Homo sapiens: one gene and its partners. The protein of the gene in region 1 interacts with the protein of each later gene in a biochemical or structural test. Each region holds a gene or a part of one and is shown on either strand. Other genes may lie near its edges. The genes, in order: SREBF1, MED13 and TWIST2.

What was found.
Region 2: the proteins of SREBF1 (region 1) and MED13 form a complex in vitro, tested with the Homo sapiens proteins (one study listed by BioGRID).
Region 3: the proteins of SREBF1 (region 1) and TWIST2 form a complex in vitro, tested with the Homo sapiens proteins (one study listed by BioGRID).

Annotation. Positions count from the first base shown.
Region 1 is NC_000017.11:17,819,881-17,826,989, forward strand, and holds part of SREBF1 (sterol regulatory element-binding protein 1), read right to left. Parts: intron 3,751-7,109; exon of another isoform or gene 3,728-3,750; coding exon of another isoform or gene 3,638-3,727; intron 642-3,637; coding exon 210-641; intron 1-209.
Region 2 is NC_000017.11:61,964,253-61,971,361, reverse strand, and holds part of MED13 (mediator of RNA polymerase II transcription subunit 13), read left to right. Parts: intron 1-3,103; coding exon 3,104-3,327; intron 3,328-4,710; coding exon 4,711-4,900; intron 4,901-5,893; coding exon 5,894-6,356; intron 6,357-7,109. UniProt on the Homo sapiens protein: Component of the Mediator complex, a coactivator involved in the regulated transcription of nearly all RNA polymerase II-dependent genes.
Region 3 is NC_000002.12:238,850,645-238,857,753, forward strand, and holds part of TWIST2 (twist-related protein 2), read left to right. Parts: intron 1-419; exon of another isoform or gene 420-7,109. UniProt on the Homo sapiens protein: Binds to the E-box consensus sequence 5'-CANNTG-3' as a heterodimer and inhibits transcriptional activation by MYOD1, MYOG, MEF2A and MEF2C. Also represses expression of pro-inflammatory cytokines such as TNFA and IL1B.

The DNA of each region.
Region 1 (7,109 bases):
GGCTTCAAGCCAGGCCTCCAGTGCGAGGTTGCGCCTACCCCGGCAACAAGCACACCAGGACTGCTAGTAACAGGGCATCTCAAGCAGCCGAGTGGAGCCCCAGTTTCTAAAGCCTGCACAGACCTCTACTCACATCACAGCAGAAGCTTCTTCCTGTGCTCCTGGAAGCCCCACCCCGGGTGTCCCCTCCCGCCACACATCCCCCTTACCTGTAGAGAAGCCTCCCGGAGGGCTGGGGTAGCCTAACACAGGGGTGGAGCTGAACTGCGGTGGGGCTGGGGCTGGGAAGCTCTGTGGCAGGAGGGCCCCTGGCAGGGGCTGTGGGGTGGGGGTCTGCAGGATGCTCAGTGGCACTGACTCTTCCTTGATACCAGGCCCAGGGGAGAAAGCGGGCATGGACGGGTACATCTTCAATGGAGTGGGTGCAGGCTGGGGAGGGGACAGGGGTGAGGGCGCTGCCTGCGGCCCGCTCAGGAAGGCTTCAAGAGAGGAGCTCAATGTGGCAGGAGGTGGAGACAAGCTGCCTGGGGAGCTGGTATCGGGGCTGGCAGGGTCTGTGCCCCCTGCCCCACTCCCAGCATAGGGTGGGTCAAATAGGCCAGGGAAGTCACTGTCTTGGTTGTTGATAAGCTGAAGCATGTCTGTGAAAAGGAGAAGAGGGTGCGTGAGTGAGGCAGAGACTGACCCCCAAACAGGGCATCACACACATCCAAACACAACCTTATTTGCACAACCCTTGTTGGCACACAGCTGTATGTGTGGGCAATGCCACCAGGACAGAAAGCCACCCACAGGAGCTGGTGTTCCCGGACATACAGCCATTTTGCGAGCACCTGTGCTGTCTAAAGCAATGCCTGCTGCTGCGAGTGCATCACAATACCTGGACAAGGTGGGCACCACAAGGCTCACAATCTTGCCCCACAGCTAGGCTGGGGCTGAGCCCAGGGTCGGGCCCAAGACTGCAGACTTCAGAGCCTGAGCTCTTCCCACCATCCGGTATTTGCCCAAACATCTAGAAACATCCTTAGTCCACAGCAAACAGCAGGCTCACATTCATTCACTCATCCAGTGAGCATGTGCTGAGTGCTGAGTGCCCACACTATGCCAGGCACTGCTCCCGGCTGTGAATAAGGGAAATCCCTGCCTAGAACTAAGCAACTTTCTGGGGAGCTGGGAGTGTCCTGTAGCTTGATGTGGATGGTGGTAAACTTTTACTCCTGTCTTCATGGGGCATGCATTCTACAAGACATCCACCTCTGAGTCCACACACATACACACACACACACACACACACATACACACTGCACCGTGGACTCAGACCAGCTTCCAAGCATTTGCCCATGAGGTGACCAACCCTTCCAGACAGCTCTCCTGCCCTCTCCACAGTCCATCACCCCCAACCCCACACAGAACAAAAGGAATCCAGAGGCCCAGGTGCAGCCTTCCCTGGCTCCACTTGGGGCCTGTTTCTCAATGTGTGAAACGGGGGGCACGCCTCCATCCACAGATCCAGCAGCTCCAGTCTTTGGGATGGAGATGGGGATGGGGAGGGAGGAGCAGTCTAGGGCAGAGGGGGTCTTCATATAGGAGCGATGGGCCCCACACCCCACCATTGGCCACTCCTGGTCTCATCCTAAAACGCACCCCCAGCAGGATCCTCTGGGCACTGAATTTGACAAAGCAACTTAGAAACTGCTGAGGAGTGGGTGATTTTCCCCTCCCCTCAGTTTACAGGGGGAAGAGGGGTGCAGAGAGAGGCAGGATTGCCTTGAGGCCCTGAAGAAGTGGTGGGATCCTCTGTGACCAAGGACCAACTGTGCAGCCTGGGCCCACTCTTCCTAGGGCAGCGCAGGATCCCCAAAGAGAATGGCAGACAGGGAAGTCCCCCAAGAGGACCCCAGATCAGAGCAGGGTCCTCATCCACACTAGAAGGACTCTAAGGGTGGGGGCCCATGTCAGAAGGGTGGGTCTGGTCCAAAAGCCAGGCCCGCTGTGGGGCTACCCACATTGATGGGGCCAGGCTAGACCCCTAATCCTCACCCACAGCTGAGAGGGTGATGTGATCATTGGCCCCATTCTACACGTGAAGAAACTGAGCTGTAGAGAGGTGACTTACTGGCCTAAGTTCTTATAGAGTCAGAGACTCAACTGAGTCCAGACCCTATTTTGACTCCAATGCCCCAACCACTGGCCACTACCCTAGACTACCTCAAAAGATTAGCTCACCTCATCTTGGAGACAAGAAAAGACACTGAGGCTCAGGGAGGACCACAAGCAGCCCAAGAGCATGCAGTGGGGTTCAAACCCAGGTCTACAAAATCCCAAATCTATTGTCTCTCTGCCTTTTCTTGCCCCACTAAGAAGCCAAGAGCCAGGCTGCCATCACCAACCCATTACTCAGTGGAACAGACCAAGGCTTAGGGCCAAGCCAGCTGCTGGCCACATGGCCAACCAGTGTGTCTCTGTGTAGAGTTCTGGGCTCAAGTCCAGGCTTTGCCTGCAGCCAAGTAGCCTCAAGACCCAGGCCTGGCCACTCAGGGCTTTGATTTCATCTCTGTAAAAGCAAGTGCTGTCTGTCCTGACTCCTTCCTCCTCATACAGACTGGGACACACTCCCACCTCAGCCCCACCTGGCCAAGGGCCCTCTCCCCCAGCTGGTGACTAGCAGCCTATCTGGCTCAGCCCAGGGCCCTCTAACCCACTCGTGGTGGCACCCACTGGGTCAGAATGCTCTACAGGACCCATGGGGGCCTCCAGTGCTCTCAGGATCCCCAGCCTGAGCTCCCAGCCCTGCCCACCACCAGCTTGAAGTGGAGCCTGGACCAACAGCCTCCTCTCACTGGCCCCAGTTTCCTCATCTGTACAACAGAAAAGACTAAACCCCTTTTGGTACGGCTGCCCGAGGCTTTGCTTGGCAGGCAGCTGGCACCGAGTGGAGACCCAACATTGCCTACTGACAGGTACCCAGGCAGGGAAGCTACTGCAGGAGGGGAATTTCCTAGAGCAGTTGGCAGAACAGGATGGGGTGGCAGCCCCAGTCTTCCTGGCTTCTCAAGTAGAAACTCTCCTGGTTTGTGGACCCCCCAGGTCACAAGTCATCAAGTCATAATGGACTTTCAACTGCAGGGTTTCCCATCCCTTTACCCCAGTCCGTGTGAGCCTCTTCGATAGATGGGGGAAACTGAGGCCTGAAAGAAAAACTGACAATTTTGACAATCTAGGGCTCCCACTGTCTTCCTGAAAAGTCTAAGATGCCCACAATAGGCAGGGGTGCTGAATAGGGCAGACGCTGTGGCAGAGGGACAACGGGCCCTCCTCCCTGCTTCCTCCTGGTCCTGTCCCAAAGCGGGTGCAGAGAATGTAGAGAAGACCACCCTCTCCCTCCAAACCCTCTTAGGTCGGGATGCTGCTTTTGGGTCTCTAAGCAAACCCTTCCCCCTTGAGTTGCAGGGGACACTAATTTGGTTGGAGGTAGCCCTCCACTTCCCCAGCGAGCTGGTAACTGTCACACCTTCTCCCTCGGGAAGGGGCTCTTTCCTGCTCAAGTTGCGTAGCCCGCATGCCCGCCCACCCCAGGAGAACCTGCAGGAGACGGAGGCATTGTATAAAGGGCTGGTGGGGAGGCCTCCAAAAATACCTTCGAAAGTGCAATCCATGGCTCCGCGATCTGCGCCCGCCCTTGGGGCGTCCAGGCCGTTGGCCCTACCCCTCCCCGCGCCGACTTCACCTGTCAAGGCGCGGCGGATTTTTGAAGCCGTTGAGCGCTGCGGCGCGCCCGCCCCGCCCCGCCCCGCCCCCAGCCCCGCCCCAGCCCCGCCCCGCCTGCAGGTCCCGCCCCGCCCCGCCCTTCGGGGCTGCGGGCCGGGCATGGGGTGAGCGCGCGCGGCCAATCAGCGGCCGCGCTGCCGCCTCGCTAGGGCCCGGCCCCGGCCCCCGCCCCACCTCCCCACGGCGGCGGGGGCTCGAGTTTCACCCCGCGGCGCTGAATGGGGTTGGGGTTACTAGCGGACGTCCGCCTTTAACCCGCTCGGTGCCAGCGTCTGCCGGGGTTACTGGCGGTCACTGGCCCTCAGCTCCCGCCCCCTTCGTTAAAGGGTCAAAGCAGAGAAGTCCTGGCCCAACACACCAGAACTCTGTGTTCGAAATCACTGGTTCGCTGGCACCCTGAGCGAGCCTTAACCGCTCCAACCCTCCGTTTACTCCTCCAGAAAACAGGACAGTCATTATCTCCCTGGCGTCGAATGGTAGAAGGGAGATAATATGGGTGCAGCACTTAGTACGCAAGAAGCGTTTAATTAAGGCCAAGGGCTGCCGAGTGGCAGCTGCGGTGGGTGCAGGGACCTCCCCCTTCTAGGGCAGCCCCAGGAAGGGGCCACCCCTCACCACAGCGGGGCTGATGGTCTGGGATGAGGCCACTCCTGAAAACAGGTCACTTCCGGGAAACTGAGGCCTGGAAATAAGGGTTTCCTGACTGCCAGCACCGATGTCCCTCTGCCAGATGGGTGAAGTCTGCCCCTCCCCCTCAAGGCCTCACAACCCAGCAGTCACCAAGTGAGTCCCGACCCACTATTCATTGTAGGGCCCTGGGAAGCCAGGAAGGGCTGCAGTCCCTAGGACAGAAGATGGGTAAGGAAGGGGTGACAGGCTCTAGGGTTCTTTTGAGGAGGTGCCTGGGCCTGTCTTCCCTCTTTTGTCAAAGGTAAAAGTTACACACACACACACACACAAAGTGATCAGAGCCTGGCCAGTTGATTTTGCAGCCAAGTAGACCACCAGCAAAGCCTGCCTCTGCCCCAAACTGCAGGCCAGCGCCTCTGCCTGGTCCACACCCCAGTTGGCTGCAACCTGAGAGGGTGCCTGAACCCTGGGCAGACCCAGCGACTCAGCAGTCCATTGGGGGCTGGGGTCCCTGCGGCCTCAACCTTGCTCTCTATTCAGGACCCTAAGCAAGAAAACCCAGCCATGTCTCTCTCGCAACCTGTCCTCGCCACCGCCGTCCAGCCCAGGCCCTTATTTCCCAGCTTTGGGAGGTTCAAGGACAACAGACGGCCTCTCTAGCATGGCCCAACCCTCCCCTCAGCCCGCGGGTGTTCCCTCACCCCCAAAACAAAACACAGCATTGCTCTTGGCAAAGGCTCTGACATGAGTGACTTAAGACAGGGAAGCGTCCTTGACCCAAAAGCACACTGAGAGCTGAACTCCAGGCATGAGTTCCCCATGGCCTCCCAGCCTGGTTCTTTCATTACTTTGCTCCCCAGTTTCTGAGCCTAGAATGTGGTGAGACCAACAAGCAGATACTAGCCTGAGACAGCAGGGCCAGGGCCACTGTGAACAGTCAAGCCTGTCCCCTCCCCTTACCCATCTTGGCTTTACCACATATTCCTGCCTCTTATTGTGTCTTTATTTGTCTCATCTTCCTGCTCTAACCCCCTCCCATCCCACTGAGGAAGCGCGATGGGAGAGGGCGGTTGCTCTCTGAGCCCCAGGGGCAGCAGAGTCATTAAAGACTCTGATGGGGGTGGGGCGGGGGGGGCCTTCCAAGAGGAGGGGGTGTGACCTGGGAACAGAGGGCTGGCCCTTGGGCAGAGGGCACAGACTAAGCTAAGATGCCCCGAGGAAGGGGGAAGGGCCTGGGTGCCACTGGCCATGGCCAGCCTCTGAAACTCAAGGCCTGGCCAAACCCTGGCTCACTCTCCCCTGGGGCTGATCTACTGGCCAATTTCTTTTTTTTTTTTTTTTTTTTTTGAGACAGAGTCTGGCTCTGTCACCCAGGCTGGAGTGCAGTGACACGATCTCAGCTCACTGCAACCTCTACCTCCCGGGTTCAAGTGACTCTCCTGCCTCAGCCTCCTGAGTAGCTGGGATTACAGGTGTGCGCCACCACACCTGTAATGAAATGTAATTTTTGTATTTTTAGTAGAGACAGGGTTTCACCACGTTGGCCAGGCTGGTCTCGAACTCCTGACCTCAGGTGATCCTCCCACCTCGGCCTCCCAATGTGTTGCGATTACAGGCATGAGTCACCGTGCCAATTTCTGTGGAAGCTGGTCACCAGGTTAAGACTGAAAAAGGAAACTCTAGAGCCAGCCCTGCAGCCTCCCTCAGAGACACACCCAAGTGGGCTATCTGGGGCTGCATGCCAGGCCCTGCTCTTCCTTTAGCCCCTCCCTTGCTGTGTGATGGGGACAGTCCACTCCCCACCCTCTGAGCTCCCACACCTACGATCTCCAGAGGTGGGAATTCTGGGAAAGCAAGTGTGTAAAACATCCATCACTCAACAGTCTCAACAAAGGTTAGTTCTCTCTACAGCAATTAGAATGGTTTAGAACTGGAAAGTCAGGTAGTGAGTTGCCTGATACTTGCAGTATTCACGTTGGAGCTCCATTACCATTCGACTGAGTCTTTTTTTTTTTTTTTTTAAGGGGAGTTAACGGGGCCAGTCTAGAGTAAGGCAGCTGAGGCACCTTGGGTGCACAATTTAAGGAAGAGCCTCTCTTGCCTCCCCTAGTCCCTGTCCTGGAAGCTGGGAGAGCTGGTCTCTAGGGGCTCACTGTGGCACCCAAATTGCGGCCCACCCATGGGTGAACCGGGCTTCCCTATGAACACTGAGAAGGCCCTTGTGGTTCCCACACACACTCTGAACACAGGAAGGAAGAGGAGGCATAGACTCTGGGCCATGGTGGCCCCAACTGCTCCCTAGTTCACCTTCCCCAGGCTTGTGAAGCCCTGCCACCCCTCCCCAAGCCTGGGTTCCTCCTCTTCCCTCTTCTTCTTCCTCTCCTGCCCTGATTCTATCAGGACCCAACAGGAAACCTGAACCCCCACCTGGCATCCCTCCCCAGTTCTACCTTCAAACCTCTCTCTGAAGGCAGATGCAGGCGCCCTTTAATGACTCTGGCCGATGTATTCTGTGAGGCCATGAGGGAAATCCTGGGCAGGCCTCATGGCATGCGCTTGTAGGGCCCAACGCTGACCAGCACAGAAGCCTACAACCCAAACAAGGCCTTGAACCCCAAACAACCTCCTGGAAGAGGGAGCTCTTCACCTGCCCCCACAGCCTTGTCCACAGAACCCAGATCCATCTCTGACAATATCTACTGTGTGCCAAT
Region 2 (7,109 bases), about 44 Mb from region 1:
GAGGTTGCCATGAGCCGAGATCGCGCCATTGTACTCCAGCCTAGGCAACAAAAGCGAAACTCCATCTCAAAAAAAAAAAAAAAAAAGTAGATATTTATTTATTTATTTCTGTACCTTAACTGATTTTGGAGATCATTTCTATCTGCACATATAGAGATTATCTTTTTTTATGGCTATATGTATTCCATTGTTCCTTACATATGATAATATATTTTACCAGTGCAGTGTTTATGAACATACAAATTGTTACCACCATTATCATTACAGCTACTTTTCAGTAATGCACAGATCCCTGGCTTTAAAGCATGGGTGTATTTTTATTTTATTTATTATTATTATTTTTGAGATTTGTTCTGTCACCCTGGCTGGAGTACAGTGGCACAATCATGGCTCACTGCAGCCATAACCTCCTGGGTCCAAGTGATCCTCTCACCTCAGCCTGCCAAGTAGCTGGTACTACAGGTGCTCACCACCACACCCAGCTAATTTTTGTATATTTTGTAGAGATGAGGTTTTGCCATGTTGCCCAGGCTGGTCTCCAACTCCTGGGCCCTAGTGATCTGCCCAACTCACCCTCCCAAAGGGCTAGGATTATAAGCACCCAGACGTGTATTTCAAGAAAAAAAAAAAAAAAACCTAAATAACTATCTGTAATGCCTTTTTTTTTTTTTTTTTTTTTTTTGAGACAGTCTCACTCTCTTGCCCAGACTGGAGTGCAGTGGCATGATCTTAGCTCACTGCACCCTCTGCCTCCCAGGTTCAAGCAGTTCTCATGCATCAGCCTCACGAGTAGCTGGGATTACAGGCATGCATTAACCACACCTGGCTAATTTTTGTATTTTTACTAGAGATGGGATTTTGCCATCTTGCCCAGTCTGTTCTTGAACTGCTTGCCTCAAGTGATCCACCTACCTAGGCCTCCCAAAGTGCTGAGATTACAGGCGTGAGCCACCATGCCCAGCCCCTGTAATATCAGTTTGAATTCCCACCAGTTAAAGTGCCTGTTTTCCCAAAGCCTTGCCTAGTAGGATGCTGATTCAGTGGATGAAAAATGGTTATTTCCCATTATAGTTTGAGAGATTAAATAGTACAGACTGTGGGGATAGATTTCTTGGGTTTAAATTCCTACTCTGCTACTTCTTGTGAAATGCTAGAGAAATTGCTTAACTTCCTCATTTATGTTTTCTCATCTCTAAAATGAAGTTAATAATAGTTTCTGCCTTATGTTTTTTGTGAGGATTAAATGAGTTAGTACATGCAAAGAGCTTTGAACAGTACCTAGCACATAGAATTATCATTGTTTGCTATTATTAATTTTAAATTGCTTTTTTAATGAGAAAGAGCATCTTTTTATGTGTTAGAGATAGTTTTGTTTTGTAATCTCCATGTTCTTAACCCATTTTTCTATTAGGTTGTTGGTCATTTTCTTTTAAAAATTTTTTTATTATGGTAAGAACACTCACCAGGCATGACGACTCACGCCTGTAATCCCAGCACTTTGGGAGGCCGAGGTGGGCAGATCACTTGAGGTCAGGAGTTTGAAACCAGCCTGGCCAACATGGTGAAACCCCATCTCTACCAAAAATTCAAAAATTATCCCGGTATGGTGATGTGTGCCTATAATCCCAGCTACTCAGGAGGCTGAGGTGAGATAATTGCTTGAACCCAGGAGGTGGAGGTTGGAGTGAGTGGAGATCGCACCACTGCACTGCAGCCTAGGCAACAGAGCAAGACTGTCTCAAAAACAAAACAAAAAAAAACTAAAAGAAAGAACACTTAACATGAGATCTGCGCTCTTAGTAAGGTTTTTTCTTTTTTCTATTTTTTAAATTATATTATTTTTAAATGTATAAATAAGGATGGTGTCTCACTATGTTGCCTAGGCCTCAAACTCCTGGGCTCAAGTAATCCTCCCACCTCAGTCTCCCAAGGTGCTGAGATTACAGGCATGAGCCACAGCACCTGGCCTACAGTGTATTTTTATGCCAATTTTTTGTTTGTTTGTTTTTGAGATGGAGTTTTGCTCTTTTTGCCTGGGCTGACGTGCACTGGTGCAATCTCAGCTCACCGCAACCTCCACCCCCTGGGTTCAAGCAATTCTGCTTCAGCCTCCTGAGTAGCTGGGATTACAGGCATGCACCACCATGCCCGGCTAATTTTGTATTTTTAATAGAGACAGGCTTTCTCCATGTTGGTCAGGCTGGTCTTAAACTCCCAGCCTCAGGTGATCTGCCCACCTCGGCCTCCCAAAGTGCTGAAATTACAGGTGTGAGCCACTGCACCCAGCCCCATGCCAAAAATTTAAATGCAGACCAGACGTGGTGGCTCCTGCACGTAATCCCAGCACTTTGGGAGGCTGAGGAAGGAGGATCACTTGAGCTCAGGAGTTTGAGTCCACCCTGGGCAACACAGCAAGATCCCATCTCTACAAAAACTTTAAAAATTAGCTAAGCATAGTGGCACACACCTGTAGTCCCAGCTATTCGGGAAGCTGAGGACAGAGGATTGCTTGAGCCCAGCAGGTTAATGCTGCAGTAAGGCGTGATTGTTCCACTGCAGTCTAATCTGGGCAATAGAGCAAGACCCTGTCTCAAAAAAATAAGTAAATAAAAAGACTTGTTTAGGAAATTCCTTAATGTTGAAAAGTCTTGACCACTGGCATTAAGTATTTTTGTCTCTAATAAAATATTTTCACTAATAATGACTTCATTAACTTTTGACATTTAAATAAAAAGGAGGCCGGGCATGGTGGCTCACACCTGTAATCCCAGCACTTTGGGAGGCCGAGGTGGGCGGACACAAGGTCAGGAGCTCGAGACCATCCTGGCTAACACGGTGAAACCTCGTCTCTACTAAAAAATACAAAAAATTAGCCAGGCGTGGTGGCAGGCACTTGCAGTCCCAGCTACTCAGGAGGCTGAGGCAGGAAAATGGCGTGAACGCGGGAGGCGGAGCTTGCAGTGAGCCGAGATGGCGCCACTGCACTCCAGTCTGGGCGACAGAGCGAGACTCTGTCTCAAAAAATAAATAAATAAATAAATAAATAAAAAGGAGACATGTCTTGTTTTTAAGTGTTTTCTTAAAATACATCTTTCTTATTTAGGAACTGATGAATCCCCAGAACCACTGCCAATCCCCACATTTTTGTTGGGTTATGATTATGATTATCTGGTGCTTTCTCCATTTGCTCTTCCTTATTGGGAGAGACTTATGCTGGAACCCTATGGATCTCAAAGAGATATAGCCTATGTTGTACTGTGTCCAGAAAATGAAGCCTTGTTAAATGGAGCAAAAAGCTTTTTTAGAGATCTTACTGCAATATATGAGGTAGGTGTTTAAAAAGAGATGACATTTTAAAACTACCTTACGATTTGTATTGTTGTATATACAGCATACTGGGCAGTTCAGTTGATTGGGACACAGTGATGATGTCAGATTAGATGTTTATTTCTCATACTAGCCAGTTACATTCTTTGCTGAGTTTGACCCAGTCTGTTAGATGTGTATGCCGTGGGTCAGAGTGGCTATCCCCCTATAGGAGGAAGAAACATTGAGGGCATATAGATATATATCCCTTTTAATGTGGCTTTTTCTAAAACAAAGGGTAACAATGTTAAATAGCCAGGAAAAAAGTTACATTTACAAAAATTCTAGTCTTTATTCTCTAGGATTTCAGGTAGTGACACTAGGCCTCACTTTCCTCATATGTAAAATAAATCTATGCTAGATATCACTAAGGTCCATTTCAGGTCTGAAATTCTTGCCTCTTCTTTTAAGTTATAATTCTCACATATCCATCACCAGGCGCAATAATTGTAAATTATAAGTGTTATGGGACATAAAGTCTTACTTTATTATTCCCTCCTTTTTCCACAAAGGCTTCGAAATTTAGTCTTTAAATTTTGATTCCTTATACAATCTGAATGTTAGTGTATGTTAGTTTAGCTTCCTTTTAAAATTTTCCACATAATTACAAGGTATTTGTAGTGTGTTTTTAATAAATAAACATTTCCCAAAGGGTGTTATTTGGAATATCAGTCCGGTAAAATCCTCTCAGAGAAAAAGTTCCATAGTTAAATAGGCTTGGGGAAACATTGTATATTATATTACCTTTTAGAGATTTACAATTCATATTAGGTTTTTAAAGGCTTTGAAATTCTTACAGTAAAGAACTCTTCTAAGTTTGCTTAATCCAATGTTTTAAATTTATTTAACATTGGGCTTCTAATAACAAAAATCAGTGACTCACAGAACTAGAGGGAGAAGGTGTATAAATATATTTGTATAACAATTTTTATTTTGCTTTGATTTAGGGATATTTGTATTCATAATTCATGAATTGGTGTTAATGTATACCTAAAATGACTGCATTTTTATGCTCACTTATGTCTGCATTCTGCAAGCTTTTATTCAAACAAAATGGTTCTAGTACTATTGTTATCTAGGTGTTTTTTCATTAGAGATATTTTAATTTTGAAAAAAAATTAATGAATTTCTAATGTAAAAATGAAAAAGACCTATGGCACCATTTCACCCTTGATATGTTTATTTTTTTGGCCTACTTCTAAAAACACCCTTGATATTTTTATCATAACTGTTAATTGCAAATGGTTAAGCTTATTTTAAGTAGCTTTCATGGTTGGTTTTATAATGTGTATCTAAATACAATAATAAATTTACTAATTCTGCTTTCTGTATGTATATTTGTAGTCCTGTCGATTAGGTCAACATAGACCTGTTTCTCGACTGTTAACAGATGGGATCATGAGAGTTGGATCTACTGCATCAAAGAAACTATCAGAAAAGTTGGTAGCAGAATGGTTTTCTCAGGCAGCTGACGGTAACAATGAAGCATTTTCTAAACTCAAGCTTTATGCACAAGTCTGCAGATATGACCTAGGTATTGAATTTGTATTTATTGTATAAGGCTGGTGTTAGCAAAATGTGGCCTGCTCCACCAGCTGTTTTTGTAGATAAAATTTTATTGGAACACAGCCATCCTCATTTATGTATTTTCTCTGGCTGCTTTTGTGCTACAACATTGGAGCTGAGTAGTTTTCATAGAGACTGTGTGGCTGCAAAGACAAAAATATTTATTATCTGACCCTTTACAGAACAAGTTTGCTGATCCCTAATGAGGGATCCCATCAGGTAGGAAGAAATTATGGGTTATAAATAAATTTTCTGTTGCCTCTGTAGGGTCTGATGTTTTAATAACTTGAAGATTCTTCATTTGTTACAGTTTAGAGATAAAATAATTTATAGTTAATCTCTACCAAACCAAGAAATAGTTCTTTGTTGTAGCTAAGAAAACGACAGCTGTTTAAGACTTGCTTGTTACATACTTTTTTTCTTTCATTCTACCCGTGCCTAACTGTATTGCTTATAAATACTCTTGAAAATAAAGATCAGTGGACTTCCTTTAGACTTAATCCAAAGAGATGCAGAACCAAAATATTGAATCTCATTAGACATTCCTATAATTTGAACCCCATAACATTATACCATTTTATATTTTAATTAGCTGTCAATGTAGTCAATATTTATTTGATTTGTGATTTAGAAACCCTTTGAATAGTTTGATGAATATTGCTAGATACCTTTTTTACATTTAATTATACTTAGAAAATAGAATTTTGTTACACTTTCATAGTAATCATTTCTTTAATTTTGAGTGAAAATTCTGGCTTTTTCAATTCCATTTTAAATATGTTTCTTCAGTCTCTAGGGGAAAATAGAAAGCAAGTGTAGGTCACACCATTAGCAAGCAATTTCGGGGCTATAATTACCAAGAAAACATCAACTGGATTATGATTCTGTTTACACAGTAGAATTTAAAAAAACCAGTCAGTGAAATAAAGAATTAAATTTCGTACCTGTTTTTATTCTTTAGGTCCTTATCTTGCTTCCCTGCCATTGGACAGCTCTCTACTTTCCCAGCCAAATTTAGTTGCCCCTACAAGTCAGTCTTTGATTACTCCACCTCAGATGACAAATACTGGAAATGCTAATACTCCATCTGCCACCTTAGCATCTGCAGCGAGCAGCACTATGACAGTGACTTCAGGTGTTGCCATATCTACTTCAGTTGCCACAGCTAATTCAACTTTGACCACAGCTTCAACTTCATCTTCATCATCCTCCAACTTGAATAGTGGAGTATCATCAAATAAACTACCTTCGTTTCCACCCTTTGGCAGTATGAACAGTAATGCTGCAGGATCCATGTCTACACAAGCAAATACAGTTCAGAGTGGTCAGCTAGGAGGGCAACAGACATCAGCTCTACAGACAGCTGGGATTTCTGGAGAATCATCTTCACTTCCCACTCAGCCGCATCCTGATGTGTCTGAAAGGTACCTTTAAAAATACTGATTTTTGCAGAAATATAAAAACTATGATGCTGCTTCTTTCTTTTTTTTTCTTGAGACACAGTCTCACTCTTTTGCGCAGGCTGTACTGCAGTGGTGGGATCTGCACTCACTGCAACCTCTGCCTCCCGAGTTCAAGTGATTCTCCTCCCTCAGCCTCCCTAGTAGCTGGAATTACAGGCATGTGCCACCACGCCTGGCTAATTTTTGTATTTTTAGTAGAGACAGGGTTTTGCCATGTTGACCAGGCTGGTCTCAAACTTCTGACCTCAGGTGATCCACCCACCATGGCTTCCCAAAGTGCTGGGATTACAGACGTGAGCCACCACGCCCAGCCATGCTGCTTTTTTTCTAAATAAGACGTTTTGAATGAGCATAAAGTGCTTTTTTATCTTAGTCTTGAAATTTTAGTTTGTATCTTTTTTTAAGACAAGGTCTCACTCTGTCACCCAGGCTGGAGTATAGTGGCGTGATCACGGCTCACTGCAGCCTCGACCTCCTGGGCTCAGGTGATCCTCCCACCTCAGCCTCCTGAGTAGCTGGGACTTACAGGCATGCACCACCATGCCCAGCTACTTTTTTGTAGAGATGTGGTTTCACCCTGTTGCCCTGGCTGGTCTGGAACTCTTGGACTCAGCAATCTGCCTGCCTCAGCCTCCCAAAGTGCTGGGATTACAGGCATGAGCTATCGCACCCGGCCTAGTGTTGAATATTTTATGTATAAAATTATAATGAGGA
Region 3 (7,109 bases), on another chromosome or scaffold:
CCATTAAAGATTATAGAAAAATAAAATGCAATACATGTAATAAATAAATAAAAACAGTGCCAAGAGCTTGTTTGGAAAAAAGCCCTTGAAAATATAATAGATAATTACACAGTTAGTGGGAGAGCTGATGATCTATAAGGAGCCTATTTATTTTTATTTTTACATACTGGACTATAACTGAGTAGTTCAAACAAGCTAGTTTCATTAAATAGATACTCTAAAAGAAGAGAAAAGAAATATGGAAAAATTTTATCCATGAATGATTCTGGACACACCTTGTTTTTATTTATCAGGCACGTTAGGCAGACATCTTGTCATTCTTTTTGTCTTTAACTCATTATTCCCTATAAGATCAATACGATTATAATTGGTTTGATTTCCTGAAAATGTTGCTAAACAGCATTTGTTTTTATTTGTAGCATTTCTAAGAAGCATTAATTATATGCATCAGCAAAGAATCTCTAGACATTTCAGTACATTGTAAGTGATTTTAATGTTTGATGTGGGATGTTTTCACGTATGTGAAGAAAACTGTCAAGACTAACAGCAACAGCAGCACAAAGCCTAAATTGTCCTCTGAAAGGAAGAGAAACGCAAGAGATGGTGGAGTGCGGGTGCTGCCGATATCTATCCTGCCTTTCTTCTTTGGCCTGGTATTTAAAAGCACAATTAGACAATAAATCAGGTGTCTTTGTCCAGTCAGTTGGATTCATCTAATAGAAAAATCTCAAAAGGATTTTTTTAGTATTCTCATTAAATGCCTGAGTCTTCGGAGCAGGGTCCCAGACACCTGGCTTGGAGGGTGGGGGAAGGTGACCATTACTTATCAGACATTTGTCCTGTTCCCTGCTGTGTGGTTAAAGAAAACATCTTCTCTAACTTCTGCATAGTGTGCACAGATTTTCAGTAGATTTCCTCACTCAACAAACTTTTTTTTTTCTGAGAACTTTTAGCTACTTTGAAGAAATTGCATGACCCCTTCACCATCTAATATATGTGAGCCTTTTCCTCCCTCCTGAAAATTTACTTCTCATAGGTGTTTGTTAACTGCTGTATTCAGGATGCTAGAAAATCAGTTCTTCGTGGAGAAGAACAGAAATGCAGAATCCCAATGGAGCTTTTGCTTGCCTAGAAGAAGTAGAATGAAAGGCTGAGCTCCCTGGAATATAAGCAATGTTTGGTTACAAAATACCCATCAATAAGATCTGATGTAGGGATTTGACCTGTTAATGTGGGTCTTTCCCCTTAAATATCAGCAGTCCTTTCGGCCTTGCATCAGGGAAGTCTTGCTACTCATCTTGCTGGAGAGGGAATTCCTCAGACTTCAGTGGCTCTTTGAGGCCATTTGAGATAGAATACTTCACTGAGGTTTCCTGAAACTCATATTTTCATACAGATCTTGAGCTGAACCATGTTCTTGTCATCCTTGCTTCACTCTGTTCTGGGTAGACGGCACAGATGCCGGATTCCTTTTGCCTGGCAAAAAAATTTAAAAAAAGAAAAAAAAACACCACACACATAAAGTAAACTCTTTCTGAGCAGAGCACTATAACTCATAACTTTAGTTTAAATCTGGGCTTTAAAAAAAACAAATATTTTAATAAGCCAATTTTAAAGGCTGAACTTTTATGACGGTTTTTAAGCTTAGTATTTATATTAATCTATTCTCACTGGTGTCTTTAAAAACCCTGTGAATGCATGCTGGAATGTCTGTTTATGTTTGTGTCTTTTCCTGGGAAAGGATAAATGTGCTGCAAAAAGCAAACCAAATACAGAACTCTCCGCTAGCAGAGAGTTCACAAATGAGGCAATAAAATTCAAAGAAGAGATGAATAAGTTACTGTAGCCAAGGACTGGAAAACCATAAAGGAGAAACAGAATCTAAGAGATACAGACATGGATGCTTTCAAACGTAAAGGCAAGATGAAACACTACAAACAGAAACTGATTAAAAAGATATTCCACATGGTCACCTGAGTCTACACGTGATAAAATTGCATAGCACTAAACACACACACACACACGCACATGCACGTGCACACACATGTACACACGAGTGTATGTAAAACTGGTGAAATCTGAATGAGGTCTGGGGACGATATTGACGCCAGTTTCCTGATTATGATAATTGCAAGATGTCATCACTGGGAGAAGGGAGTGAAGATATGAGAATCTCTGTATAATATTTCTTGCAACCTCATGTGAATCTATAATTATCTCAAAATTAAAATAAAAAAGATATTCTACAAAAGTATTAAATCTATATATTTAGATAAGCAAATTATCTAAGAAATTACTACTAAGATTTATCTCAGAGTAATAAACTAAAAATGTGACTTGAGCAAAACTCCACATATTTTTTCTGACGCCATTTGAGGAATCTCAATATATTTCCAATATATAACTAATTAGAAGTGGTTCCCTGTAAGTCTTAAATAAAGAATAGTATCCCAGAAATATGAAAGGTGAAATACCAATTATAATAGCAATACATTTATTCCTATACTAATAAAGAAAATATTTTACACAAAATTTTGGGAAATATCTACCTTAAACTGATACCTGTGTTATATTTGCTTTTTAAGATACTAATTTTATATTAACTTTCATTAAGCATACACACACAATTCTAAAGCCAATGATTTATAAAAATTATTCGCCAAGAAGTATAGAGATTGAAGTTTTAGTATTTGGAGCCATAAGCAGTGAGAGGGAGAGGATATAGCAGAGGAGGGAGGGAGAGAGAGAGAGAGAGAGAGGGAGAGAGGGAGAGATGGAGAGAGAGAAGGAGAGAGGGAGAGATGGAGAGAGAGAGAGAGAGAGAGAGAGAGAGAGAAACTCAAACCCTAAGCCCAGTTATAGTTATTTTTAATGAATAATTGTTTAGAAACATATTTTCTGTTTTTGTTTGGTAGTAACCCTTTGGATGAGATTGAGTGATATTAAACTATGCCTTACCTGAATGCTGATTTGGAAATGAGGGCGGTAGCATTAACAAGGTGAATTTTAAGCTCTTGTAAACTGAGGCACAGTGTGATTTCTCTTCAGCGATTATTAATGGTTGTCACTTCGAAAAGAGACTTGGATCTGAAATTGGAAAAGCCAACACATAACTTGATTCCAGCATGAGGAAAATGTTTTAGTGCTTAGTTAAAAATAGAGTCATTTTGAACCCAAACGGTATCTGACGTGCTTCAGATATCTGGGCTATTTCATCCTCAACTGTGGTGTGATAATATGATGATCCTGTGGTGATGAAGATGAGAGAGCGCGGCTGCGTGAGCTGAGTGCAGTGTCTGCTTGTCTACCGGGGCTGTCCCTCACTGAGCGGTTTTCTATCCTAATATTGTTTTCCTCTGTTATTTGACCAGGGAAAGATTCAGATGACCCAGCTTCTGTCGAAGCCTCATGGAGAACTATAGTTTTACTTCTCAGACCCGAAGAGCAGTGCCTTTAAACTTGGACACATCTCTCCTTTCTTTAGTTCAGATTTTCCCTTCACTGAAATGAAAGACAGGGTTGAACTCAGAAGAGCTTTCGGTTATCACATTCGATTATCCTGGAAAATACTCCTGTCTTTTTAGTTCACATTCTGCCTTAAAAAAATAGCCATCAGTATCTTCTGGGAGGAAATGGTAAATTTTGTTATGTGGTCTGGCATTAGAGTCCTAATTCTCACTGTCTAATTTGACAGACGGTTCACCTCTGTGTCTCTGGATGTGCAGGTCTGGTGTGCGACTGACGGGAAAGATTTGGGCAAACCCCTTGATTTGTATTAACCCTTCGACCTTGACTAAACATCAGACCCCACCCTGTGGCTGAGGTCTGTGGTGTGGTCACAGGCAGAGTCTTTCCGGAGCACCAGGCAGAGCAGCTCCCCCCAGGAGGGGTTAGGGCAACTTTTTGGCCTTTTGCTGTGAGAGGGGAGGGTTAGAGATCCTTTTGCTCTCTTCCCCGTGGAGAAAAAAATGTTGAAACTTTCGTCGTTACTACTGTTTTTCTGTCGCTATCCAGACAAAATGCCACCCTAGCATTTCTGTTAAATCTCTGTAAGTAGATGCCCCTGCTGAAGGGTGGAGAGATTTTGGCCCGCTTCCGAGGCAGGGGCTCCATGAGGGACAGCTTGGAGCATGAACAACCTCCTAAAGGAAAGCACAGGCCAGTCATGTACAATCTCGGGCTCTGCTGCCACGGCAGCTTTCTTTGTCTGTTCTACTTTGAATTAGCATATTCTGTATGTGAAAATGCAAGCAGGCAGCGTTTTCTTTGAATCACGAGATCTACAAGTACCGTTTCCTTTCCTTCATCTCTGCTCTTTGAGTGGTTCGTGTGGCCGGTGCTCAGAGGGCTCGGAGTGGCAAGCTGGCTGCCTGCGTGGACTCCCTGGACCTGCGACTTGTCCTTTACTTCCACAACTCAGACTTTTAGCTCGGCGGAAGAGTGCACAGGCGCAGCGCAAGCTAGCTAGCCTGCAGGGTTGGCAAAACCTATACCGACTGGGTCCCTTCCGGAAAGTTTGTGTGAACTTTAAATCTCAGTCTCAGGGAGACTGTTTTGTCTTGATACATAACAGAATAAGGCAGTTATCATTTCTTTGGGAAATGCCTAAAATACCGCAAATTGGAAGGGAAGGGAAAGGAAGGAGGAGAAGGCATACTCCTCTTTCTCAAATCGGGCATCTACACGTCTCTGTTCACATCATTGACACCAATGGGCGAACAGTGTCTTCATTGAGGATTAATTTTCCTGAAATCAAATAATCCCAAATTGCATACTACATATATACTGGTTTCTAACTAGTCAACATCTTCAACATATGCCCAGCCGCCTGGCTTTCCTCTCGTTCATGATAATCTGCATGCGTAGATGGGAAGCTAGGAGAGAAAGATGTGATCATTTCGCATTCCTTGTTTTCTGTCTGGTGAACATTTCTTCTCCAGCAAGTGTTTCCTACCGCTTCCCCCAAACCTGCATATACTCTTCTATATTCTTTAGTTGAAACAGCATCTTTTAAAAACATGATTAACTGAAGTCCGCTTGAGGTTTCACTTTATAAAAAAGTAATAGAGGAAGAACGAGAAGCCCACCATCAGGTCCCGTGATAGCTCAGTCACACGTGGAAATACAGACTGTAAATACAGAATGGCCGAGGACCCTCTGAGCAAAGGTCATCTAGGGGCTCCCGAAGCCTCGTGCGGCCCATAGATGTGTGCTCAGCACCCCCGCCTCAGTGTGTGCTTGGCGACTCCCTCTCCTTCGTGGGCTCATGTTACTATTTTCTAAAAGTATTGTTTCACTGATACCAGAACAGGAGTGCTCCAAACAGATATCTGTACCCTAAGAATCCCAGGGTGCCCTGTTTTTGTTGATTTCTCTGGTGCAGAAGGACCTGTTTCCACGATCCCCAAACTCCCTGGGGGCCGTGCGGTGGCTGTGGCAGAGGGGGTGCATCCAGGACTGGCGTTTTATGGCCCCCGAGGTAGGGTCAGGAGAGAGCTTATCTTGAGGTCCCGTCTTGTGTGACTGCGAAGGTGTTAATAGGCAGGGTCCAGGTGGCCCATGCGAGCTGGCAGCATTGGAAGGGTAGAATTAATTGAAGGGCATTTTACTGGGTGTTAAATTATTGCTAATTCCAAAACTTTCTTTCAGACTATTTTTTTCTGAGAATAGAGATTTCCTTCTAATTAAACAACAGGCAAAAGATGAGCACGGTTACTCACCTCTCTGCTCGTTTCAGTGTTGCTGTATGTCATCTCCTTTCTTGTTTTACTACAGTTCACAAGTGAATAATATCATGTAATTTCAGTGTGGAACAATGTAATTTCCATGTGCGTCCCCAGCAACCCTGTGTACATTAGTCTATCATTTATAATTTATAACATGGAAAAGTTTTTTTTTTATGAAGGACAAAATAAAAGAGAAGGTTAGGATGTGAATAGGTCAAGTGATATATGAAGAATTTCACAAGGGATCAGGGCTACGGAAGGGACTCAGGTCTCTTAAGAATAGGTCCCATTCTGTATTTATCTTCAGGATTGTGTTGGGGCCGTGTGCCTCTCTCTGCTGCTGGCCATGGGAGACCCGGCACCTCTTCCTCAGTGTCCCTCAGAGACATAGAAGACAGCAGTTTCTCAGAAAAAGCACCCTTCCTGCCGTTCTCAGAAAAACAACACTGTGAAAATCCAGCAGGGCCCCTCCACACTGCTGCAATAGTGCCACGAGGGAGGCCGCTGCAGACACAGTCACTTGAAGAGGACCTCAGGTGCCTTCCCTTCCTGTTTGGTCCCAGGCATCAACACTGCCCAGCAAAGTGTGTCCAAGAAGCCCCAGAGGGGGCCGTGTCTCTGAGGGGCCTGTGACAATCGCAGGTGATTCAGATGCCAGAGAAAGCAGAGGCCCCCAGAGGAAGGTGGTCAGGGGGCCATCTGCTGTGCCTGGGGTCAAGGACCACTGGAGGGAGCTTGGGTTGGCCTGAGACTGTTCAGGGGAGGGGCACCATGGGCATGGTGCCCCTGCATGACGGGCGGGCCCTCCCATGAGAGAGGAAGAGGGGAGCAAGAGGAAGGACGCTGCTGGCTGTTTGCAAGTAGCTGTCCCACCACCCTGGCACTTCCCTGGTCCCTGAGGCTGGACGGGCCTTGGAGCCCATCTTCGCTAAGGCCCAAGTCACCTATCAGCTCGTGCTGATGAATGTCTGAGCATGAGCCCAGCACGGCTCAGCATTTGCCAAGGTTAAGGAAAGGAAGTGGTAACTCAGCATTGATTTCCTCCCCCTGGATTTAATAGCGATAGATCTAAACCTGCAGTCAGATATCACTTTGAAAGCCTTGGCTCATCTAAAGACAGCTTCCAAGAGACGATCAGGCCAGGCCACTGCTGCGGTTTGCAGAGGAAGCAGGACCAGCCCTGTCTTTGCTGAAAGAAGCCAAACGACCATCTTGTCTGTCTCGTAAAGCATCCTTCTGCTTGAATAGCAGAGCTCTTTGAACGGCAATAAAATATTACATTGAGGCTGGGCGCAGTGGCTCATGCCTGTCATCCCAGCATTTTGGGAGGCCAAGGTGGGTGGATTACCTGAGGCCAGGAGTTCGAGACCAGCCTGACCAACA